Linked DNA regions of Homo sapiens. The protein of the gene in region 6 interacts with the protein of the main gene of each other region in a pairwise test. Each region holds a gene or a part of one and is shown on either strand. Other genes may lie near its edges. The genes, in order: RNF11, CASP6, LAMP2, HMOX2, HTT, NUDT1 and HIP1.

Region 1 (3,337 bases), on a different chromosome or scaffold from region 6:
TGCTGTAAGTTAAAGCTCTCTTCATTAACACTAACTTTCTCTTATTTTACTTTATTTTACTTTTTGAGACAGAGTTTCAAGTGATTCTCCCACCTCAGCCTCCCAAGTGGTTGGGATTACAGGCGCGTGCCACCATGCCTGGCTAATTTTCGTATTTTCAGTAGAGATGAGGTTTCACCATGTTGGCCAGGTTGGTCTCGAACTCCTGGCCTCAAGTGATCCCCCGACCTCAGCCTCCCAAAGTGCTGGGATTACAGGCATAAGCCACTGTGCTCGGCCTGTGAAAATTCTTAATTACTACATAACATTCTCTTGCTAGTAGCCAGTAATAGAGCTATGAAAAAAAATTAAACATTCTCTTGCATTAAGCGAAGTGTTTCAATATATTAAATGTCTGACTTTCTAAAGTGCAGGAGAAAAGGCAAATTTTTCAAAAGCAATCTGAAAATAAAACTTTGAAATGTACAAATTAATTAAAACTTACTCCCGGATCTTTTTTTCTGATCCATCTCTTCCAGGGTCATAAACTCCTTTAGGCAGATGTTGTATAAGACCTATTCTTTGAGCTATCCTAATTTGTTCCTCTTCAGTCAGCTGAGTTGCTAGCCGAGTCTGGCTAGGTGTTGGGTGGTAGACTGGAACTGGAACTTGTTCCTAAAATATTAAAATATAGAGGAAAAAGATTATTTTTTAAAAACCTTTCGAGGGCTTATTTTTTGGTCAGAGATAGAAGGGAAAGGGAGCCCTGGGAGGGGTAGGAAGCTGGGCTAGTGTTTGGCTGTATGACTGTGTTTCACCCTGCCTTAACTTCAGCTACTAGAATAAAACATACACACACCAAAACATTCTCATTCTGCCTAAAGGATATAAACACAGACTTCACTGAACTGGCATGGAATGTTAAATGAACTATTTCCACATGATAAGAGACCAGCCTGGACAACATAGCAAGACCTCATCTCTAAAAATAATTTTTAAAACTTTTTAAATGGACTGGACTATGGCAAAAATAAATCTAAAAGTTATCTAAGACTAACTTTCCCATTTCATAGGACCAAGCTTGCCTACAGTCACTAATTGACAATACTGAAATTAGAATTCTGCTGCTCCTAATCCAACTGATTTTTTACACAACAAAACAATTCAAAGGAATCGTGTGTATAACCCCCACCTTTTTTTGAGATAGGGTCTCCCTCTGTTGCCCAGGCTTAAGTGCAGTGGCACAAACACAACTTACTGTAAACTCAACCCCCTGGGCTCAAGCAATCCTCCAACCTCAGCCTCCTGAGTAGTGGGGCCACAGGGTTGAGCCATGGTGCCTGGCCTATAATAATATTTAAAACTGAGCAACTCTGATGGAATGAAGCTGGGATGGAGTGTGGCCTAGAAGGGATGAGGCTCCCCATCCCCAAGCCCTCACCTTGGTTACCTTTGCAGAATCCTCAGAATCAACAGAGCAGTCTGAAAAACACTACTATCTCAGAAGATGAGATTTTCAGTCTGAAGAATTAAATTATAAGATTTCAGTCTCAGCTCGGCTACTTACTGTGATTGCTTGGACCAAGTCTCTTAATGTCTTTGAATAAAGCAGATAACAGTACCCACTTTAAAGAGTTGATATAATCATGAGATAACTAAGAGCTTTGTAAATGCCAATATTTGTAAATTATTCTAACATCTCCCCAACGTCATGATTCTCCCCATCATGATTCTCTGCTTTGCAGACTTTAAGCTAAGTGCTACTGTCCTTGGCTTTGGTCCTGGCTTTCTGGCTTCTCTTTGAATACTACAAACTCTTGGACTCTGTTGTGATCTCTGCCAGCTCTGAGTTCTTCAACCCTTGAATTACCATTTCCAGTCTAAATTACCTTCCTGAATCTTAGCCTCAGTCCTAGTTGACCAGTTTTGATGAGCTGTCATCCACACGCAAACTGGGAACAAATTGGTTTAAGACTAAGATAATATAAAGGGTCTCTTAAATCCTTGAACCTAACAAACAAAAATAACTAAATTGTTTTAGAGAAAATAAACTCCAACTATGGGTTTTTCAGAGGCTAGATTTCTTCAGTCTTGTGGTTCACATACGTGTAGAGAACACAGAAAGCAGAACAGAAAAGGAAAGTTCTACTTTACGGGGAAACATTAATAAACATTAAAGAAGAAAATAAAAACTATATTTTAATTCACGTTATGAGTGTATTTTCTCCTTTGGTATTTTTTTGTTAAAACAAAGGAACCCTCTCTATATCTTTTAGATATTTAAAATGATTGAACAATCTAATTTCAGTTTACATGGTTCAGAAAACCATAGAGGAAAGGAAATGACTAAGACCTCCTGATATTTTAAAGATGAATGTGGCCTCACCCTTCTTACCACACATGCCTAATTTTAAATTTTAATTCCCATGATACTTGTTTTAAAATGGCTTGATATCTGAGTTATCAATTGTTTCATAACTAGACAGCCACTGATTTTCTAGGCAGCAAAATGGAATCCTGATTCAATTGTTGGCTAACAGACACTGAGTGAGTAGAAGATTAGACAGGGGTATAAAAACAACAATTTTAAAAGATGTGATGGCTGGGCATGGTAGCTCATGCGTGTAATCCCAGAACTTTGAAAGGCCGAGGCAGGCGTATCACCTGAGGTCAGGAGTTCGAGACCAGCCTGGCCAACATGGTAAAACACCATCTCTACTAAAAATACTAAAATTAGCTGGGCGTGGTGGTGCACGCCTGTAATCCCAGCTACTCAGTAAGCTGAGGCAAGAGAACTGCTTTAACCCGGGAGGCAGAGGTTGCAGTGAGCCAAGATCTTGCCACTGTACTCTAGCCTGGGCAACAGAGAGAGACTCCATCTTAACAACAAAAAAAGATATGGATTTGGGGGTGGTTCCCACCATTCCCTATCTGCGAACACTATATGGTTTATGTTCAACACCTGCTTCCCCTCTGAGAATCAGGAATTTTGTCATATGCTAGGCAGTGGGTGCCTAATCAGTACCTGGGGCACTGAGTCTCCAAATGAGCTTCTCTGGCAGAAAACCTTTCATATATGTTGAAGGAATTAAGCATGTCCTGTGTGACTCCACTAGGAGATAACTCTTGGAAGCTTGTGCTTAGTTCCCTTTAGACCAAAGCACCTTTCCCCTTAGCTGATTTTGCTTTGATTCTTTGCTGTAACAAATCATAGATGTGAGTAAGATTATATACTAAGTCCTAAGAGCCCTCCTATTGAATCACCAAACCTGGGGACTGTTTTGAGGACCTCCAACGCCAGTGCTAGGTTGTGCTCCCACTTTATATTTGCAAAGCTACTGTGTTTCGTCCCCAGCTG
Region 2 (2,659 bases), on a different chromosome or scaffold from region 6:
AACTTCAACTGAAACAGTGTATATAAACGATTGCTTTTGAACCTGCAAATCACAAGTTTCAGGTATCGAAGCCAAAACAGTTAACTTTCTTCAGCCTCTGGCAGATTATTAACAAAACAGTATTATTCAGATTCTATATCATATTAATAAGAATTGAACCTTGAAAGTAACATCTGTTATTCTATTAATGTGATTGTGTGTGAATGGGTCTGATGACTGTTGGACTGTTTGTAGGAACTTAACATGGAAGATGCTGACAGAATCAGATTTTGCAGGTGTTCAACCTATAGTGGCTAAGAATTATGTTTTCTATTTCATCCTCAGAATGCCATACAACAATTCTGGAATGCTGATTTTTTTTAAAGTAGGAATTAAAGTCATACACAAAATGTGGTAATTCATATGTAGATGAAATATTAAACATTTAAATGACCGAGTAAAAAACATCTATCAATTACACAAATGAACAAGAATGTGAGTTAGAAAAATGTAATAAAATATGAATTTCGAATATTTTATTAAGGGATGATTTAATTCCTGGATTTCAAAAACCTTTAAAAACATCAAACAATAAACTTTTATAAAAAAGTGACAAAATACAAGTTAAATCAGCTAGATTTTTGTGTAACCCTGCAGTTTATTAAAAAATAATACAAATGCTTATAAATTTTTATTTATCTAATTTCCTGAGGATTTTGTTTCTCCATATCAAACCCTTTCACCATGGCCAACATGAACTTTTTTTTTTTTTTTTTAAGGCAGTTCTCTGCTAGGCATTAAACTTTAAAACATTTGAATCATTAGACCATAATGCTTCACCCTAACGATATTTATATAAAAGGAAGAGAAAGACATTTTCTTTTTTTTGAGACGGAGTTTCACTCGTTGCCCAGGCTGGAGTGCAATGGCGCAATCTCGGCTCACCGCAGCCTCCACCTCCTGGGTTCAAGTGATTCTCCTGCCTCAGCCTTCCAAGTAGCTGGGATTGCAGGCATGCGCCGCCATGCCTAGCTAAATTTTTTTTTGCATTTTTAGTAGAGACGGGGCTTCTCCATGTTGGTCAGGCTGGTCTCGAACTCCCGACCTCAGGTGATCCGCCCACCTTGGACTCCCAAAGTGCTGGGATTACAGGTGTGAGTAACCACGCCTGGCTGAGAAAGCCATTTTCAATACAGAGTGTAAAATTAGATAGCCTCTATTAATTAATTAGATTTTGGAAAGAAATGCAGCTTTTTAGTTAGCATTGAGGCAAAACAGGGAACCTGCTTCTTTCCAATTGCACTTGGGTCTTTGCAAAAGTCCACTCGGCGCTGAGAAACTTTCCTGTTCACCAGTGTGAGGAGTTCTGTGAACTCTAAGGAGGAGCCATATTTTCCCAACATCTCACACAAATCTTGAATGTACCATGAGCCGTTCACAGTTTCCCGGTGAGAATAATATCCTAAAAAAGTGAGAAGGAAAATGTTGCTGCAGTTTTCTGGCTTTCAATTACTGTGTGTATTCTTTTTAGTTACAGAAGTATAAGTTCTTAAAAATCCTTAGAAGAGTCTTAAGATGTGTCCATGATATAAATGGCTTTTAAATTTTTTTGACTCTTTTCAAATGGGAAAAGAGATTAATTCTATATAGTTTTATATACACGGGGTTAATTCTGTATAATTTCTTCCATTTCCTAAAAAATTCCCAAGATAGACAATGATTGAGACATGAGATTACTAAAAAGAAGTCAAAATTATTTACTACAAAAGCAAAGAACCATTATCAAAATATTTTTCAGTTGGGCATGGTGGCTCATGCCTATAATCCCAGCACTTTGGGAGGCTGAGGCAGGCAGATCACTTGAGGTCAGGAGTTCGAGACCAGCCTGGCCAACATGGTGAAACCCCATCTCTACTAAAACTACAAAAATTAGCTTGGCGTGGTGGCAGGCACCTGTATTCCCAGCTACTCGGGAGGCTGAGGTAGGAGAATCACTTGAACCCAGGAGGCAGAGGTTGCAGTGAGCTGACATTGGACCACTGCACTCCCGCCTGGGCAACAGAGTGAGACTATTAAAAAAAAAAAAAAATACACACACACACACACGTCTGGGCAACAGAGTGAGACTATAAAAAAAAAAAACGCACGCACGCACGCAATGGCTCATACCTGTACTCCCAGCACTTTGGGAGGCCAAGGCTGGAGGATTGTTTGAGACCAGCCTGGGCAACATAGCAAGACCCAATCTCTACCGAAAAATTAAAAAGTTAGCCAAGCATGGTGGTGCATGCCTATAGTCCCAGCTACAGGGGGGCTGAGGTGGGAGGATTGCTTGAGCCTGAGAAATTGAGGCTGCAGTGAGCCATGATCATGCCATTGCACTTCAGCCTCAGTGACAGAGTTGAGACCTTGTCTCAAAAAAAAAAAAAATTAAAGCTTTCCATGACAATTACCACAATGGCACTACCACCCTCAGTAACTGATGGTAGGCTGCTAATACTAATATAATTAATTAGACTGTTGCTTTACTCAACATAACTCTCAGGAATTATTTTTCTGTAAGGTACTTTACACTTTCATTTATCACTCTGTGCCATGTGGTCAAAGAAATTCTAAGTCTGTGAGCTTCAGGATGGAATCACCATGTCCCAACCGAAAGATCTGACCCAAACCAATCAAA
Region 3 (2,825 bases), on a different chromosome or scaffold from region 6:
CATGTAAAAAGGAGTATGTTTATGTATGTGTTGTTGTTTTATCCAATTATATAAAAATTAAGCATTAGACTAGATTGTAAGGAATTTAAAGGAAATTCACAAAATGGATAGCTCCTCCCCTTGCCCCACCATATCCCTGAGGTATATCTCACTCAGAATGAAATGAACTTCAACAATTAGTATAGTTCATCAATGCAGACAGACATACGCGGAAAGTACGTTTGTTATGATGTTCTTACATTTGTTAGATTTCCATATTTTGTTTTTGATGTTTTCTTGTAATTTCCATGACTAAGTAGGTCCCCCTATTTGAGGTGTCTGTACTAAAGGTTCTGTACTAGTGCCTTCCTAATGACGGGACTTGGTTAAGTTGCAGATCTATGAGATCCTATGATTCCTGTTGACAATCCAAGAGACTAGAATTCAAGAAACTTAGATTATACAATTAAGTCTAAGCTCTTAAGGCTGAGCATATGGAATAAAAATGAGGTTATCCATAGTGGTATGGAATGTATGATCTTTATTAATTTTTAATCCATCAATCTAAAATCACACATACTAGATCAAACAGAAGTACCACAGTATGCTTTATTTTGCAGGTATTAATTGGTTCTCTAAATCGATACATCCAAAACTTTAGTTAGCAGCAAGCATCAGTTCTTCCAAAGCAGCTTAGGTGAAAAACAATTGTTTACATTCACCAGTTCAAAGTCGTACTGTCTGATCCACTGTTGTATTGACATAAAATTGAACTCAGTAGGCAAAGCTAATTGAACACTCAGCTCATAGATTTTGAGCTTCCTTTATCTTATTGGAGTTGAAGCAGTTTTTAACCCTCTGTTAATATTCTCTATTTTAATTCTCAAAGAATTAAACACACATATTTTCTAATTAATTAAGATAGAGCCATGATAACTATTGAGGAATTAGTGATATTAGTCTCATACCCAAAAGGTAGAACACTTTTAAATGAACCCATAATTTTGAATGTATCTGAATTTCCAGTTTATATGCTTAGCAAGGTCACAAGCTGATTTTATTAATCTGGCTTCTAGATAATCATCTCAAAAATATGTATTGAAACAAAGCCACTGTTTTTTATGATGACATCATTTTAACCAAATGCTTTTATAACAAATAAGCAGTTGTTCTCAAAAGAGAACATTTTAAAAGAAAACATTCTTTACATACTTAGCAAATAGAGGAGAGTGTGAATCTGTATGTCAGAGCTATAGAGTTCTAGAGGAGTTGTAGTTGAGCAATCTAACTTTCTACTCCAGTTTTTGAGATGTACATGTTTTTGAGATGTACATATAGAGAAGGCAGTAAAGAAAGATCTTGATAAATTTTCTTTAACAAAAATTTGTAATTCCAGTTATTGGCAAAGGGTTCTGGCATGAGTTAATGGCAGCAATACAGTGGTGAGCTTCTGCATTGTGCTGAGAGGTAGATTGGGACTTAATCCTTGGAATGAATAACCAACTCACTTTATTTAAGGTTCAGGCTTAATTTTTTTAATCCAAAAAAAATTTCTGAAGTGAAGGCAGATCTTTGGGAACTTTTGTTTTTAGTTAAATGTAGAGATAAAATAGCTTGATAAAATAAACATCTGCCTTATACTAATGACAGGTGTACAAAGCAGCCATTTGAACCCTAGACAACTTCAACACTGCTTCCAAATAAAAGGGCAATTCAACAGCTGAACCAATCAAGCAGACACAGGGATGAGTGGTCTCCAGTACCTTACTCCAGAAGCCGGAGCCATTAGCAGTCCCTACAGGGATATAAGTCTATATCAAGATCAACAAATGTACAGAATAATCTTAGTCCAGCTTTGGCTAGGCAGGCATCTGACTGATGACATATCAGGGCCCACTAACCTCTAGAGTAAGCACTTGTTGCTGTGAGAAAAAAGAAATCAATATATTAAAAATATCAACTAGAGCATATTCACATAGGGAATGGGAGAGTGCAGGAGGCACACAAACAAAGTATATAGAGTTTTTGTTTTCAGTGCAGGATAAATGAACCTTCTTAACAAGTTAAGGCTCTGAGGGAAAAAAACTTTCTAAACCATAACCTTAATAAACCATAACCCATACAGGTGTTCCAAATCAACACCTTTTTTAAAAAAAGCTGGAGGTCTTACTTCATCCTTCAGTATAAATGTCAAGTCTGAGATAATCAGTATATTCCAAACTCTAGAACAACAACAACAAAAAAAGAAATCTCCTTGTTAAAATATAGTAGCTATTAACAGTAATGAAGAAGACAGCCAAACTTTTGCTATTAAATACAATATCATGAAGCCATTTCTTTCTTAACTAACAGAAAAATACAGATTTAAATAATGCTGATCAGGAGGTGGGGAAAGGAAGTCTTATCATGAACCAAATTTCGTGTCTGCCACCAATGAAAATGAATCCACTATGTTCTTGAATTTATTTCCTGAAGCAAGTTAAATTCTTTAACACCTTTGATTTTGCAAATAACATCAAAGTAGTAAAATATAAGTAACTGTAACATATAAAATTACACATCAGCAAAAATGCTTTCATAATTGGATCCAGGGGCTTAAAATCATTATTTACTTAAAAAATTCTAAGCCACAATTTTTCTTTTAATTATACTTTAACAAAGGAAGAAAAAAAACAGAAAAAAATTGGTCCTAATATATTTTGTCTTAAATAAGTGTACTCATGCCCAAGTTAGCTAGGAACTCACTGAAGTTAGTCTGCATATCTTAAACAATCTATTGCACAGCATGTCCTGGCTTTTAGCCAATGGAAACGTAACTTCTAATTGAAAAAAACAAACAAACACTA
Region 4 (3,500 bases), on a different chromosome or scaffold from region 6:
TGCATGCCTGTAGTCCCAGCCACTAGGGAGGCTGAGGCAGGAAAATCGCTTGGACCCTGGGGGCAGATGTTGCAGTGAAATGAGATCACGCCACCGCACTCCATCCAGCCTGGGCGACAGACTGGAAGAAAAAAAAAGGATACAGATGAATAGCCAGATGGAAGAGATGTATAGGGTGAGGCATGTAGGAAGAGGCATGAAGCTTCTACGCCCTCTCTGGAACTTTCGTGTATTCAGCTATCCTGAAGCTAATGCAAACCCTGGTGTGTGTGTGTGTGTGTGTGTGTGTGTGTGTGTGTGTGTGTGTGTGTGTGTGTGTGTGTGTGTTTATGGAGGCTTCATTACAAAGGCATAATTGAATACGTTATTGGCCACTGGTGATCAACTCAACCTTTAGACCTTCTCCCGTCCCCTGAGGTTAAGGGGGTAGGGCTGAAAGTTCCCACCCTCTAATCACATGGTTGGTTCCCCAGGCAATCAGCCCCCATCTAGGAGCCCACCAAGAGTTACTTACTTACAACAAAAGATGCTCCTATTACCCAGGAAATTCCAAGGGATTTAGGAAATTACAAAAGTTTTAGGAGCTCTGTGTCAGGAACTGAGGTTAAAGACCAATATCAGAATGAAGGATTCTCCTAGTGCCCCCATCTACAAAGGTTTTAGGAGCTCTGTGCCAGGAACCTAGGGTGCAGATCAAATATATCTATAAATCTTTTTGTTTGTTTGTGTTTTGAGACAGAGTCTTGCTGCGACACCCAGGCTGGAGTGCAATGGCGCTATCTCGGCTCACTGCAACCTCCGCTTCCCGGATTCAAGCGATTCTCCTGCCTCAGCCTCCCGAGTAGGTGGGACTACAGGTGTGCGCCACTATACCTGGTTAATTTTTGTATTTTTAGTAGAGACGGGGTTTCACCATATTAACCAGGCTGGTCTTGAACTCCTGACCTCAAGTGATCTGCCCACCTCAGCCTCCTGAAGTGCTGGGATTACAGGCATGAGCCGCTGCATCCAGCCTCAAATTTATCTCTGTATCTTCTTCTAAATTACAGTATCACACCCGTGCATATGCCCAAAAATTTTTTTTTTTTTTTTTTTGAGACGGAGTCTTGCTCTGTCGCCCAGGCTGGAGTGCAGTGGTGCGATCTCGGCTCACTGCAGGCTCCGCCTCCCAGGTTCACGCCATTCTCCTGCCTCAGCCTCCCGAGTAGCTGGGACTACAGGCTCCCGCCACCATGCCCGGCTAATTTTTTGTATTTTTAGTAGAGACGGGGTTTCACCGTGTTAGCCAAGATGGTCTCAATCTCCTGACCTCATGATCCACCCACCTTGGCCTCCCAAAGTGCTGGGATTACAGGCGTGAGCCACTGCACCCGGCCTCATATGCCCAAATTTTAAAGGAGGCACCACATTCAAGTCCAAATGCCTAAAGGTAGAAGGATCAAGAAACAGTAGTATGAGGCCATTTGAGAAGTATATATAGTTATCCCTCAGTATCTGTGGAGATTAGTTCCAGGACCCCTCAAGGGTACCAAGATCCAGGATGCTCAAGTTTCTTTTCTTTTCTTTTTTTTTTTTTTTTTTGAGACGGAGTCTTGCACTGTCACCCAGGCTGGAGTGCAGTGGTACGATTTCGGCTCACTGCAATCTCCACCTCCCGGGTTCAAATGATTCTCCTGCCTCAGCCTCCCGAGTAGCTGGGATTACAGGTGTGCACCACCACGCCTGGCTGATTTTTGTATTTTTAGTAGAGGTGAGGTTTCACCATATTGGCCAGGCTGGTCTCGAACTCCTGACTTCAGGTGAGCCGCCTGCCGCGGGCTCCCAAAGTGCTGGTATTACAGGCATGAGCCACTGTGCCCAGCTTAAGTTTCTTATATAAAATGGTGTATAGAATTTGCATATAACCTATGCATATCTTCTGTATTCTTTAAATCATCTGTATTTATAATACCCAATACAGTGCTATGTAAATAGTTGTTATACTGTATCGTTTAGGTAATCATGACAAGAAAAAAAATCTGTACATGTGTAGTACATATGTAGCCATCTGTTGTTTTTTTTTTCCCTGAAGATTGATTGGTTGATTGAGACGGCATCTCACTCTGTCACCGAGGCTGGAGTGCAGTGGCGCAGTCTTGGCTCACTGCAACCTCCACCTCCTGGGTTCAAGCGATTCTCTTGCCTTAGCCTCCCGAGTAGCTGGGATTACAGGTGCCTGCCACAACCCCCGGCTAATTTTTATATTTTTAGCAGATTCCGGGTTTCACCATGTTGGCCAGGCTGATCTCGAACTCCTGACCTTAAGTGATTCACCCACCTCCACGTCCCAAAGTGCTATGATTACAGGGGTGAGCCACCATGTCAGGCCTTTTTCTGAATATTTTTAATCTGAGGTTGGTTGAATCCACTGATGCAGAGCCCATGGATATGGAGGGCTGACTGTACTGTATTGAGCTTCTAAGGTATGCAGAGTATTGGCACTGAGGGGATGTGCAAATACAACAACAAACCAAGCATAGTCTTTGTTTACTAGGAGCTGGTAGTAACTGTGGGAAGACACAAAACAGTAAAATCACTTTGTAAGGTTTATGAGAGTTTTGAGAGGCCAGGGAAGTTAAAGAGTGGAGAAATGGAGAAAATGGGAGAACTTGTACTGAACCCATTAGGACAGAGGAGGAAGGGAAGAGAAGGAAGGAGGCCAAAGAAAGAAGAAACCCTTCTTAGAGCACTCAGGGTCTTACTGAAAACTTTACCCATAAAAAGAGAATGTCACTGATAGACTCCTTTTAGAACAGGGATTGATTTTTTTGTTTTTGTTTTTGTTTTTATTTTTGTTTTTGTTTTTGAGAGAAGTCTCGCTCTTGTCCCCCAGGCTTGAGTGCAATGGCTTGATCTCGGCTCACTGCAACCTCTGCCTCCCGGGTTCAAACAATTCTCCTACCTCTGCCTCCCAGGTAGCTGGGATTAAGGCACCTGCCACCACGCCCGGCTAATTTTTGCATTTTTAGTAGAGACAAGGTTTCACCATGTTGGCCAGGCTGGTCTCGAACTCCTGACCTCAGGTGATCCACCCACCTCAGCCTCCCAAAGTGCTGGGATTACAGGCTTGAGCCACCATGCCTGGCCACAGGCAACATTTTTAAACCATACGATTGTCCTGGAGAGAGAATCTGAAGCCTTGCTCTGATTCTGAAAGGGATTTGCAACCAAAAAAGGATAAGGATTGTTCTGACAAGTACCCTTTCTTCCCATCTTCAAAAGTACACATCTCTTAATTTGTGTCTTCAAACACAAATTGTGTTCAAAAAAGGAAGTATTTGAGTAGATTAAAGACAGAAACCCTAGGACATTCCTTTGTAAACAAACAGCCTTTTACCAAACACCAACTGTCAAGGGACTTGCCTGAGTACTTGTCCAAAGGACAGCGTGTCCCCATGTGTAGGCAGTGGTCTAATCTGGTTCCTAGGAGAGGACTGCTGAGGCCACAGCAACTTAACTGG
Region 5 (3,500 bases), on a different chromosome or scaffold from region 6:
TCTTACTCTGTCACACAGGCTGAAGTGCAATGGCGCACTCTCAGCTCACTGCAACCTCTGCCCCTCGGGTTCAAGCAGTTCTCTTGCCTCAGCCTCCCAAGTAGCTGGGACTACAGGTGCACACCACCATGCCCGGCTAATTTTTGTATTTTTAGTCAAGATGGGGTTTCATCATGTTGGCCCGGCTGGTCTCGAACTCCTGACCTCAAGTGATCTGCCCACCTTGGCCTCCCAAAAGTGCTGGGATTACAGGCATGAGCCACCACGTCCGACCTGATCTTGATGTTTTAATGTCATGTGTGTTGGATTATTTGGATGAACATTACCTCTGGTTTGTTTCACTCTGAACATGGGAGACTGAGACACAAGTATCACTTGAACCCAGGAGGCAGAGGTTGCAGTGAGAAAAGATCATGCCACTGCACTCCAGCCTGGGCAACAGAGCAAGACTCTGTCGCCAAAAAAAAAAAAAAAAAAAAAAAGACAAAGCATTTCCATTACAAGTATTCCCCTGTGTTGTCCTTTTATAACCACATTCACCTCCCTCTCTTTTCTCTCCTCTGCCACCACTAACCTACTCTACTACCCCATCTCTAACCCCAGGCAACCACTAATCTATTCTCCATCCCTAAAACTGTGCCATTGCAAAAAAACATAGAATCATACAGTATGTATAACCTTTTGGGATTGGCTTTTTTCATTAGCATAACTTCACCTAAACTGTTGCATGCTATCAGTAGCTCATTCCTTTTTATTACTGAGTAGTTTAACCATTCACCTGTTGAAGGACATCTGAGCTGATTCCAGTTCTTAGATATTATGGGTAAAGCTGCTATGCATACTTGAGTATAGGTTTTTATGTGAACATTAAGGTTTCATTTCTCTAGGATTAATGCCCAGGATTGTAGTTGCTGCTGGGCTGTATACTAACGGTATGTTCAGTTTTATGACAAACTGCCAAACTGTTTTCCAGAGTGGCCGTACTATATTATATTCCCACCAGCAATAAGTGACCTAGTTTTTCTAAATCCTCACCAGCATGTGGTATTGTCAAAGTGATCTTTTCATCTAAATGCATATATATACATATATATGTGTGTGTGTGTGTGTGTGTGTGTGTGTGTGTGTGTGTGTGTGTGTGTGTGTGTGTATATTTAGAGACAGGGTCTCACTCTCTTGCCCAGGTTGTAGTGTAGTGGCATAATCATAGCTCACTGCAGCCTCAAACTCCTGGACTCAAGCAATCCTCCAGCCTCCTCAGCCTCCTGAGTAGCTGGGACTACAGGCACACACCACTATGCCCAGCTAATTTTTTAAAGTTTTTTGTAGAGACCTTATAGGTGCTGCTATGTTGGCTATGCTGGTCGTCTGGCCTCAGGCAATCCTCCCACCACACCGTCTCAAACTACTGGTATTACAGGCATGAACCATTGTGCCCAGCCAAAATGATCTTTTAAAAACATAAATTAAACTACTTGTTTTGACCACACAAGCTTATCTTGGTGCACAAGACGCTCGTCTCTAACCTCTCATCTCTCGCAGCCTCATCCTTATTTCTGCCCTTCACCTTACTTCAGCCACTGGCCTCCTTACTGGTTCTCAAACATGGAAAGCATTTCTGCCTTCTGTTAACTCTGCCTGGACCTCTCTTCTCCCGCTATACACATGGCTTGCCCCCTTTCCACTCAAATGTCACCTTCTAACCACAGCTCTCCTTTGTGCCCTAAATAAAATTGCACATTGTCTCTCCCCTCATTCGGTTGTTTTTCTCCATAGTGGCTGCTCAGATGAAAGGGTCCTTCCAGTTCATCTAAGCGAGTCCCACTACCAATGGCTGGGAGCTCTCCGCAGGCTCACCTCAGCTCACTCATCACAGCTACAGAAATGCTCAACGGCCCTACAGCAGATAAGCAAGGCCACCTCAGCTACACCTGGACACATATGAGCAACACAGGTCTTCCTCCCAAATGCTTGCATTGTTATTAGCAACAACAAAGGTAAGGTCTAAGCACCTACAGTGGAGCTTCCCAAACTCCAATGTGCATGTAAGTCACTCACTGAACCTGTTAAAACACAGACTCTGATTTGTCAGGTCAAGCAGAGAGAGTCTGCTTATGAGATCCCAAATGATACCAAACGACTGTCCCTGAGACCTCACTGTGATAGCAAGGACCTATGGACATATCATGTCTCTAACATACATTCTAGCCCCCAAATTGATCCAATTTAATACAATATTAAACAGTGCTTTATAAGGTATTTTATTTTTCCTCCTTGTTGTCTGAATAAGACTAAATGTTTTGAGTGTGGATCCATTCAAAGGTAGTTTATCAAGTGGTTGACTTATTTACAGGAAATGGAGGTGATGGGGATGGGGACTTCTCAAGGTAGAGAGAATATGTCACCAGCACATTCTACAGCCACAAAAATGTGAGACCTTTGCCTTTACATCTCCAAAAGTCCTCTTTTAAAAAGAAATTCTAAAATATTACATAGCAATTAATAAGAATTACAGGTACTGCTATGGAACAATATCTATGACACATTGTTAAGTAAAAAAATACATATGTAATGTGATCTCAGTCAAGCAAACAAAAAATGACACATTTAAATGCTTGTATATGCATATTAAAATCTGGGAAGAAGACACAAGAAACACTTTTGTTCTTAGGAAGTTAGACAAAGATGACAGACTTGCAAGAAGGGCTTTGTTTTTCATCTGTGCTGCTTGAAGATATTTTTATAATGTATATGTGTAACTTTTATAATTTTCAAAACTAGTTTAAAAAAAAAACAAAAACAGCCAAAAAAGAAATGCTTTCCAGCAGGGTGTGGTGGCTCACACCCTGTAATCCCAGCACTTTGGGAGGCTGAGGCGGGTGGATCACCTGAGGTCAGGAGTTCAAGACCAGCCTGACCAACATGGAGAAACCCCGTCTCTACTAAAAATACAAAATTAGCTGGGTGTGGTGGCGCATGCCTGTAATCCCAGCTACTAGGGAGGCCGTGCAGGAGAATGTCTTGAACCTGGGAGGCAGAGGTTGCAGTGAGCCGAGATCGCGCCACTGCACTCCAGCCTGGGCAACAAGAGTGAAACTCCGTCTCAAAAAAAAAAAAAAAAAAAAAAAAAGAAATGCTTTCCAAATGTGGTCCTATCATATTTTAACCTAGGAGTGGGAAAACTATAACCTGCATATTTTTGGCTAGTTCACAAGCTAAGAAATGTTTTTACATTTTTAAATGGTTGACCAAAATAATCAAATACTATCTCATGACAGGTGAAAATTATATGAAATTCAAACTTCCTTGTCATTAATAAAATTCTATTGGAACACAGACACTCATACATATTGCTTATGGCTACTTTCATGCTACAATGGCAGAGCCGCGTAGCTGTGACAGAGACACTGTGCCCACACAGCCCGAAATACTTACAATCTGACCATTTACACAAAGTTTGCCCATGTTCATAGGTGGAAGACAATATTGTTAAGATGCGA
Region 6 (3,210 bases):
CACATCCCCAGCTTGTGGCACTGAGCATGTGTGTCTCTGCCCTGGGCCAGCTGCCCACCTCGGGGACAGAGTCTCCATCCTCTCCCACCTCTGTGCAGCAGTGCGGGCTGAAGCCCAGCACATCTGGTAGCTTCCTGTGGACGGGACCTGGCAGGCTGTGCTGGTGTCTGGAGAAGAACGTTTGAAAGGTTAGAGACCGGCCGGGTGCAGTGGCTCACGCCTGGAATCCCAGCACTTTGGGAGGCTGAGGCAGGTGGATCACCTGAGGTCAGGAGTTCAAGACCAGCCTGGTCAACATGGTGAAACCCCATCTCTACTAAACAGACAAATATTAGTTGGGTGTGGCAATGTGCGCCTGTAATCCCACCTCTTCGGGAGGCTGAGATGGGAGGATCGCTTGAACCTGGGAGGCGGAGGTTGACGTGAGCCGAGATCGTGCCATTGCACTCCAGCCTGGGCAACAGAGAGAGACTCCATCTCCAAAAAAAAAAAAAAAAAACCACCGCTAGATAGCTTTATTTTCCCTTCCATCCAGTTAATTCCAGATGAAACCCGGCTCTGCGCCACTCAATGCCCCCAGGTGAAGATGGTTTGCGGCTGTTCAGCAGCCACGTCTCCTGCCCAGGGGCTGCCCTGGGCTCCCGCTAGACCGTGTCCACCTCGCGGAGTGTGTAGTCCAGGATGGTGTCCTGACCCTGGAACTTGAAGTACCCGTGGAATTTCTTCTTCTGAAGCAGGAGTGGAAACCAGTAGCTGTCGTCGGGCCACATGTCCTTGAAGGGGATCTGATCCAGCTGGAACCAGCATGGGCGCATTTCTGTACCAATGGGGGAAGAGGAGGCACTGAGGTGCAACCCAAACTTCATGCTTAAAAAACATGTTTTTTTTGGCCGGGCGCGGTGGCTCACGCCTGTAATCCCAGCACTTTGGGAGGCCGAGGCGGGAGGATCACGAGGTCAGGAGATCGAGACCATCCTGGCTAACACGGTGAAACCCCGTCTCTACTAAAAATACAAAAAAATTAGCCGGGCGTGGTGGCGGGCGCCTGTAGTCCCAGCTACTTGGGAGGCTGAGGCAGGAGAATGGTGTGAACCTGGGAGGTGGAGCTTGCAGTGAGCCGAGATTGCGCCATTGCCCTCCAGCCTGGGCGACAGAGCGAGACTTCGTCTCAAAACAACAACAGCAACAACAACAAAACCATGTTTTTTTGTAGAGATGGGGTCTCACTGTGTTGCCCAGACTGGTCTTGAACTCCTGGGCTCAACGATCCTCCTGCCTCGGCCTCCCACAGTCCACAGTGCTGGGATTACAGGGGTGAGCCACTGCGTCTGGCCAGCCCAAACGTACACTGACTCTCTGAGGAGTTCACTGAGTGATCGTGAGGAACCTGACGATCGTTTATATTTCATCCTCATTACCGTGTTTCTCATTTTAGGGTGGGCGCAGAGCAGGGGCAGGTACGCTACTGGAGCCTCGGTGCAGAGACCACGGCTCATGGGCCCCACGCTGGCACTGTGGGGTGGAGGGGGACGCAGGCTGCCCGGTCCCTGGCACTCAGAGATGGTTTGGGCGGATGGCCTTTCTCCCAGCCAGGAGATGGGACCCGCATAGTGGGGAGGGGGAGCAGGCCCTGTGAGACTCACCGTCGCTCTCCACGGGGGTCCCCTGGATGCTGTCTGTGCAGAAGACATGCACGTCCATGAGCTCAGGCTCGCCCACGAACTCAAACACGATCTGGCCCACCTTGTGCAGGGCGTCCACTGTCAGACCGCTCTCCTCCTGCAGCTCCCTGCGGGCAGAGGTGGGCAGGGGAGGGAGGCCGTCAGGGCATGGTGCCATGCCCACACGATGGCAGGGAGGAGGAGCTGGGCATCTACACACAGCCCAGGGAGCCACCAGGGTGGATGGGAGACCCAGGAGGATGTCCCCTAGAATGCATTATCTGGTCCCGACCTGGCTGAGCTTCAGAATCAACTTGAACTTTGAAGACACTGATTTTGGTTGAGAGGCTCTGGGGAGGGGCCCGGAGATGGTGTGGAGCCTCTGGTGGGAGGAACGCAGTTCTAGCCCAGTGCCCTCTGTGTACCAGTGACAGCCCAGGCCCAGTGGAGTCCAGCCACTTGTCCACCGTCTCGAGACCCGCACGTGGCAGGGTTGGGACTGACCCCACTTCCTTCATTCCCGGTTACTTGCTTTTCCGCGGCTGAGCATCAGAGCCCATGCAGCGGTAGTTACGACCGCCGGGGCCCTGGGACGCTTGCTCTGGGAACCTGGGCCCTATACTCTGGGCCTGTCTGCCCAAAGAAATGTCTTTCCAGCCTGGTGCCTCTTCTCTGAGAACACAGGATGAAACCACAGGCTTCTATGATCTGTTTCCTGAAGGAGGAGCTCTGGTTTTAACTCTGGTCCCCAGGCTGACCACACGGGACACGTGGCCTGGGCCTCTTCCTGCGCCTTCTCGGGACATGCTCCCCACAGCTGTGCCTGGAGGAGGTGTAAGGGGCTGACTTCACCACGGGATGCCCAAGTGCTGCTGCGCCTGGGAACAAGCCCTTCCCTGCTTCGTGGCACACAGAGCCAGGTTTCCCCGAAGTAGTCTAACGCTGTTGCTAATTTAAAAATTACATATTTGTTATAGACAACCAGGAAACAAAACGCCATAAACTCATCACCCAGGAATGCTACCATTTCAGTGTTTTTCCTTTGGCTCTTTCTCCTCTGTTTTTCCCTTAAGAAATGCAAACATTAACCCTTAATAGCTTAAAGTTAAAAAATAAAAATGCAAACAGGTTGGGTGCAGGGTGGCTCATGCCTGTAATCCCAGCATTTTTGGAGGCCAAGGTGGGAGGATTGATTGCTTGAGCTCCGGAGTTTGAGACCAGCTTGGGCAATATGGCAAAACCCTGTTTCTACAAAAAGGACAGAAATTAGCTGGGCATGGTGGCACTCGCCTGTAGTCCCAGCTCCTCAGGAGACTGAGATGGGAGGAATGCTTGAGCCCAGGAGTTGGAGGCTGCAGTGAGCTGGGATTACTCCACTGCACTCCAGCCTGGGCAACCGAGCTAGACCCTGTCTTAAAAAAAAAAAAAAAAAAAAAAGCAAACATCATACACACTTTATACCTCGGGCTTTCCACGCAAGAAAGGAGGAGTGCATGACATTCCACACCTCAAGGAACCCAGCCGCCTTCTCAACTCCTGTTTGGTATGG
Region 7 (3,500 bases), about 73 Mb from region 6:
AAAACCCCATCTCTACTAAAGATACAAAAACGATGGGCCAGATGCAATGGTTCACGCCTGTAATCGCCGTAACACTTTGGGAGGACGAGGTGGGCAGATCACCTGAGGTCAGGAGTTCGAGACCAGCCTGGCCAACATGGCGAAACCCCGTCTCTACTAAAAATACAAAAATTAGCCGGGCATGGTGGCGCACCCGTAATCCCAGCTACTTGGGAGGCCGAGGCAGGAGAATCGCTTGAACTCAGGAGGCGGAGTTTGCAGTGAGCCGAGATGGCGCCACTGCACTCCAGCCTGGGCAACAAGAGCGAGACTCCATCTCAAAAAAAAAGTGTCTATTGCCTTGTATCTCCAGCACTGACCGAGGCCTGTAAGCAGTATGGCAGGGAAACCCTCGCCTACCTGGCCTCCCTGGAGGAAGAGGGAAGCCTTGAGAATGCCGACAGCACAGCCATGAGGAACTGCCTGAGCAAGATCAAGGCCATCGGCGAGGTACTTGGAGTAGTATCATTGAGGAGCATTGTTATTCTTCTGGGTGTGCGTGCTGGTGAATGGCCAGGGAATCGGTGATGTTCTGAGCTAGTTCTTTCTGCACTTAGAACTTGATTCTAGAAAGAGATTGTTAAAATTGGAAAATCTGGCCGGGTGCAGTGATTTATGCGTGTAATCCCAGCACTTTGGGAGGCCGAGTCAGGAGGATCACTTGAGGCTAGACGGGATGGCTCACGCCTGTAATCCCAGCACTTTGGGAGGCTGAGGTGGGCAGATCACTTGAGGTCAAGAGCTAGAGACCAGCCTGGCCAACAGGGTGAAACCCTGTCTCTACTAAAAATACAAAAATCAACCCAGCATAGTGGTGCATGCCTATAATCCCAGGTACTGGGAGGTGGAGTCAAGAGAATTGCTTGAACCCAGGAGGTGGAGGTTGCAGTGCACCGAGATCATGCCATTGCACTCCAGCCTGGGCATAAGAGTGAGATCTATCTCGAAAAAAAAAAGGATCACTTGATCCCAGAAGTTTGAGACAGGCCTAGGCAACAAAATGAGACCCTGTCTCTTTAAAAATTAAAAAAAAAAAAATTTAAAAAGGAAAAACCTCCTGAAGGACTTTCCAGCTATATTTAATTCACTGGCTGTTAGCTGAGAATCTACTATGTTGTCATCATTACACTAGGCAATATCAAAGAAGTATAGGCAGCTCCCCTGTCTCTGAGGATTTTTATCTAGGTGGGCAGGTAATACCCAAAATGGAAATAACACTGTGTTCATTCATTTACTAAAGATGTAGTGCCGAGCATGGTGGCTCACACCTGTAATCCCTGCACTTTGGGAGGCCGAGGCAGGAGGATCACTTGAGGCCAGGAGTTCAATATCAGCCTAGGCAACATAGTGAGACCCTGTCTCTACAAAATAAAATTTTTTTTTTAATTAGACAGGTGTGATGTCACGCACCTGTAGTCCCAGCTACTCGGGAGGCTGAGGCAGGAGGATCGCTTGAGCCCAGGATTTGGAGGCCACAGTGAGCTATGATTGTGCCACTGCACTCCAGCCTAGGCAACAGAGTGAGACCCTGCCTCTGCTATAAATAAATATGTCCTGTATACCAGAAATTGGGTTAAGTATATATAGGGACAGAGAAGACATGGACTCTATGGAAAAGAAAAATAAGAAAACCATTTCTATGCAGTACAGTTTTTTTTCATTTTTTCCCCAGTGTTATGAATTGGAATATATTGGTTAAGATACAAGGATAGGGCCAGGCACGGTGGCTCACGCCTGTAATCCCAACATTTTGGGAGGCCGAGGCAGGTGGATCACCTGAGGTCAGGAGTTCTAGACCAGCCTGGCCAACATGGCAAAACCCCATCTCTACTAAAAGTACAAAAAATTAGCCAGGCGTGATGGTAGGCGCCTGTAATCCCAGCTACTTAGGAGGCTGAGGCAGGAGAATCACTTGAACCTGGGAGGCTGAGGTTGCAGTGAGCTAAGATCGTGCCTTTGCACTCCAACCTGGGCAACAGGAGCGAAACTCCACTCAAAAAATAAATAAAAAATAAAAGCCATGAGGATAGACTGTCTAATTGGAGTTCCAGAAGAAGATAATAAAAAGACCACATCCAGCCAAGGTGGGTGGATCAATTGAGGCCAGGAATTTGAGACCAGCCTGGGCAACTTAGTGGCGCCCTGTCTCTACAACAAATTTAAAAATTGGCCGGGTGTGATGGTGAGCACTTTTGGTCCCAGCTACTCAGGAGGCTGAGGCAGGAGGATCACCTAAGCCTGGGAGCTCAAGACTGCAGTGAACCGTGTACTCTGCAGTGAATTGCAGAGTGTACTCTGCAGAGTGGTTCACCTGCAGTGAACCACTGTACTCCAGCCTGGGTGAGAGAGTAAGACCCTGTCTCTAAAAAGAAAAAATAAAAAGATCAGGGCCAGGTGTGGTGGCTCACGCCTGTAATCCCAGCACTTTGGGAGGCTGAGGTGGGTGGATCACTTGAGGCCAGGAGTTTGAGACCAGCCTGGCCAATATAGTGAAACTCCATCTCTATTAAAAATACAAAATTAGCCAGTTGTGGTGGCTAATTTTGTAATCCCAGCACATACCTGTAATCCCAGCTACTTGAGAGGCTGAGGCAGGATAATCCTTTGAGCCTGGGAGGCGGAGGCTGCAGTGAGCCGAGATTGCACCACTGCACTCCAGCCTGGGCGACAGAGTGAGACACTGCCTCAAAAAAAAAAAAAAAAAAAAAAAAAATTATCATCTACATCTTTGCCTCCCTAAATAATAGAGTTAGTTTCACATGATATAGACTACAGGTAAATGGAGTCCTACTGTATATATTCTTCTACAACTGGCTTTTTCACTCCACATTCTGTGAGATTAATCCAAGAAGATAAATTCATTTTCACTGCTCTCTCATTATCTATTGTGTGAATATCGCTTAATTCATCCGTCTGTTCTCTTGGTGATGGACACTTGGGTTATTTCCAGTTTGGGTTGTTATTAATTTGCCCCTATGATCATATATGCACACATGTCAGTTTCTCTAGAGTATATACATAGAATCAGAATTACTAGGTATTAGGATGAATCTCACACATAGAATGTTGAGTGAAAAATCAAGTCATGGAAAAATATATACAGTAGGATTCCTTTTATATAAAGACTCAAACATTCAAACTTAATAGGGATGCATCTATGTGGAATTAAAAAATAATAATAATAAGACAGGCCAGGCATAGTGGCACATGTCTGAAAATCCCAGCACTTTGGGAGGCCGAAGCGGGAGGATCACTTGAGGCCAGGAGTTTGATACAGCCTGGGCTACAAAGCAAGACTCTGACTCTACAAAAAAGTTTAAAAGTTAGCAGAGCCTAGTGGTGTGTGCCCGTTGTCCCAGCTACTCAGGAGGCTGAGGCAGGGAGGATCACTTGAGCCCAGGAGTGGGAGGCTGCAGTGAGCTATGATCGCACCACTGCACTCTAGCCTGGGCAACAGGCTT

What was found.
Region 1: the proteins of NUDT1 (region 6) and RNF11 interact in binary tests that used the Homo sapiens proteins (3 or more experiments, as listed by UniProt).
Region 2: the proteins of NUDT1 (region 6) and CASP6 interact in binary tests that used the Homo sapiens proteins (3 or more experiments, as listed by UniProt).
Region 3: the proteins of NUDT1 (region 6) and LAMP2 interact in binary tests that used the Homo sapiens proteins (3 or more experiments, as listed by UniProt).
Region 4: the proteins of NUDT1 (region 6) and HMOX2 interact in binary tests that used the Homo sapiens proteins (3 or more experiments, as listed by UniProt).
Region 5: the proteins of NUDT1 (region 6) and HTT interact in binary tests that used the Homo sapiens proteins (3 or more experiments, as listed by UniProt).
Region 7: the proteins of NUDT1 (region 6) and HIP1 interact in binary tests that used the Homo sapiens proteins (3 or more experiments, as listed by UniProt).

What each region holds. Positions count from the first base shown.
Region 1 is NC_000001.11:51,267,273-51,270,609, reverse strand, and holds part of RNF11 (RING finger protein 11), read right to left. Parts: intron 655-3,337; coding exon 485-654; intron 1-484. UniProt on the Homo sapiens protein: Essential component of a ubiquitin-editing protein complex, comprising also TNFAIP3, ITCH and TAX1BP1, that ensures the transient nature of inflammatory signaling pathways. Promotes the association of TNFAIP3 to RIPK1 after TNF stimulation.
Region 2 is NC_000004.12:109,688,128-109,690,786, forward strand, and holds the end of CASP6 (caspase-6 isoform alpha precursor), read right to left. Parts: intron 1,442-2,659; coding exon 1,203-1,441; 3' UTR 501-1,202; downstream 1-500.
Region 3 is NC_000023.11:120,425,648-120,428,472, forward strand, and holds the end of LAMP2 (lysosome-associated membrane glycoprotein 2 isoform A precursor), read right to left. Parts: 3' UTR 501-2,825; downstream 1-500. UniProt on the Homo sapiens protein: Lysosomal membrane glycoprotein which plays an important role in lysosome biogenesis, lysosomal pH regulation and autophagy.
Region 4 is NC_000016.10:4,482,898-4,486,397, forward strand, and holds part of HMOX2 (heme oxygenase 2), read left to right. Parts: intron 1-739; exon of another isoform or gene 740-857; intron 858-3,500.
Region 5 is NC_000004.12:3,081,181-3,084,680, reverse strand, and holds part of HTT (huntingtin), read right to left. Parts: intron 1-3,500.
Region 6 is NC_000007.14:2,248,436-2,251,645, reverse strand, and holds the end of NUDT1 (oxidized purine nucleoside triphosphate hydrolase), read right to left. Parts: intron 2,336-3,210; exon of another isoform or gene 1,954-2,335; intron 1,790-1,953; coding exon 1,644-1,789; intron 1,005-1,643; coding exon of another isoform or gene 949-1,004; exon of another isoform or gene 911-948; intron 818-910; coding exon 645-817; 3' UTR 501-644; downstream 1-500. UniProt on the Homo sapiens protein: Oxidized purine nucleoside triphosphate hydrolase which is a prominent sanitizer of the oxidized nucleotide pool. Catalyzes the hydrolysis of 2-oxo-dATP (2-hydroxy-dATP) into 2-oxo-dAMP.
Region 7 is NC_000007.14:75,550,442-75,553,941, reverse strand, and holds part of HIP1 (huntingtin-interacting protein 1), read left to right. Parts: intron 1-352; coding exon 353-489; intron 490-3,500. UniProt on the Homo sapiens protein: Plays a role in clathrin-mediated endocytosis and trafficking. Involved in regulating AMPA receptor trafficking in the central nervous system in an NMDA-dependent manner. Regulates presynaptic nerve terminal activity.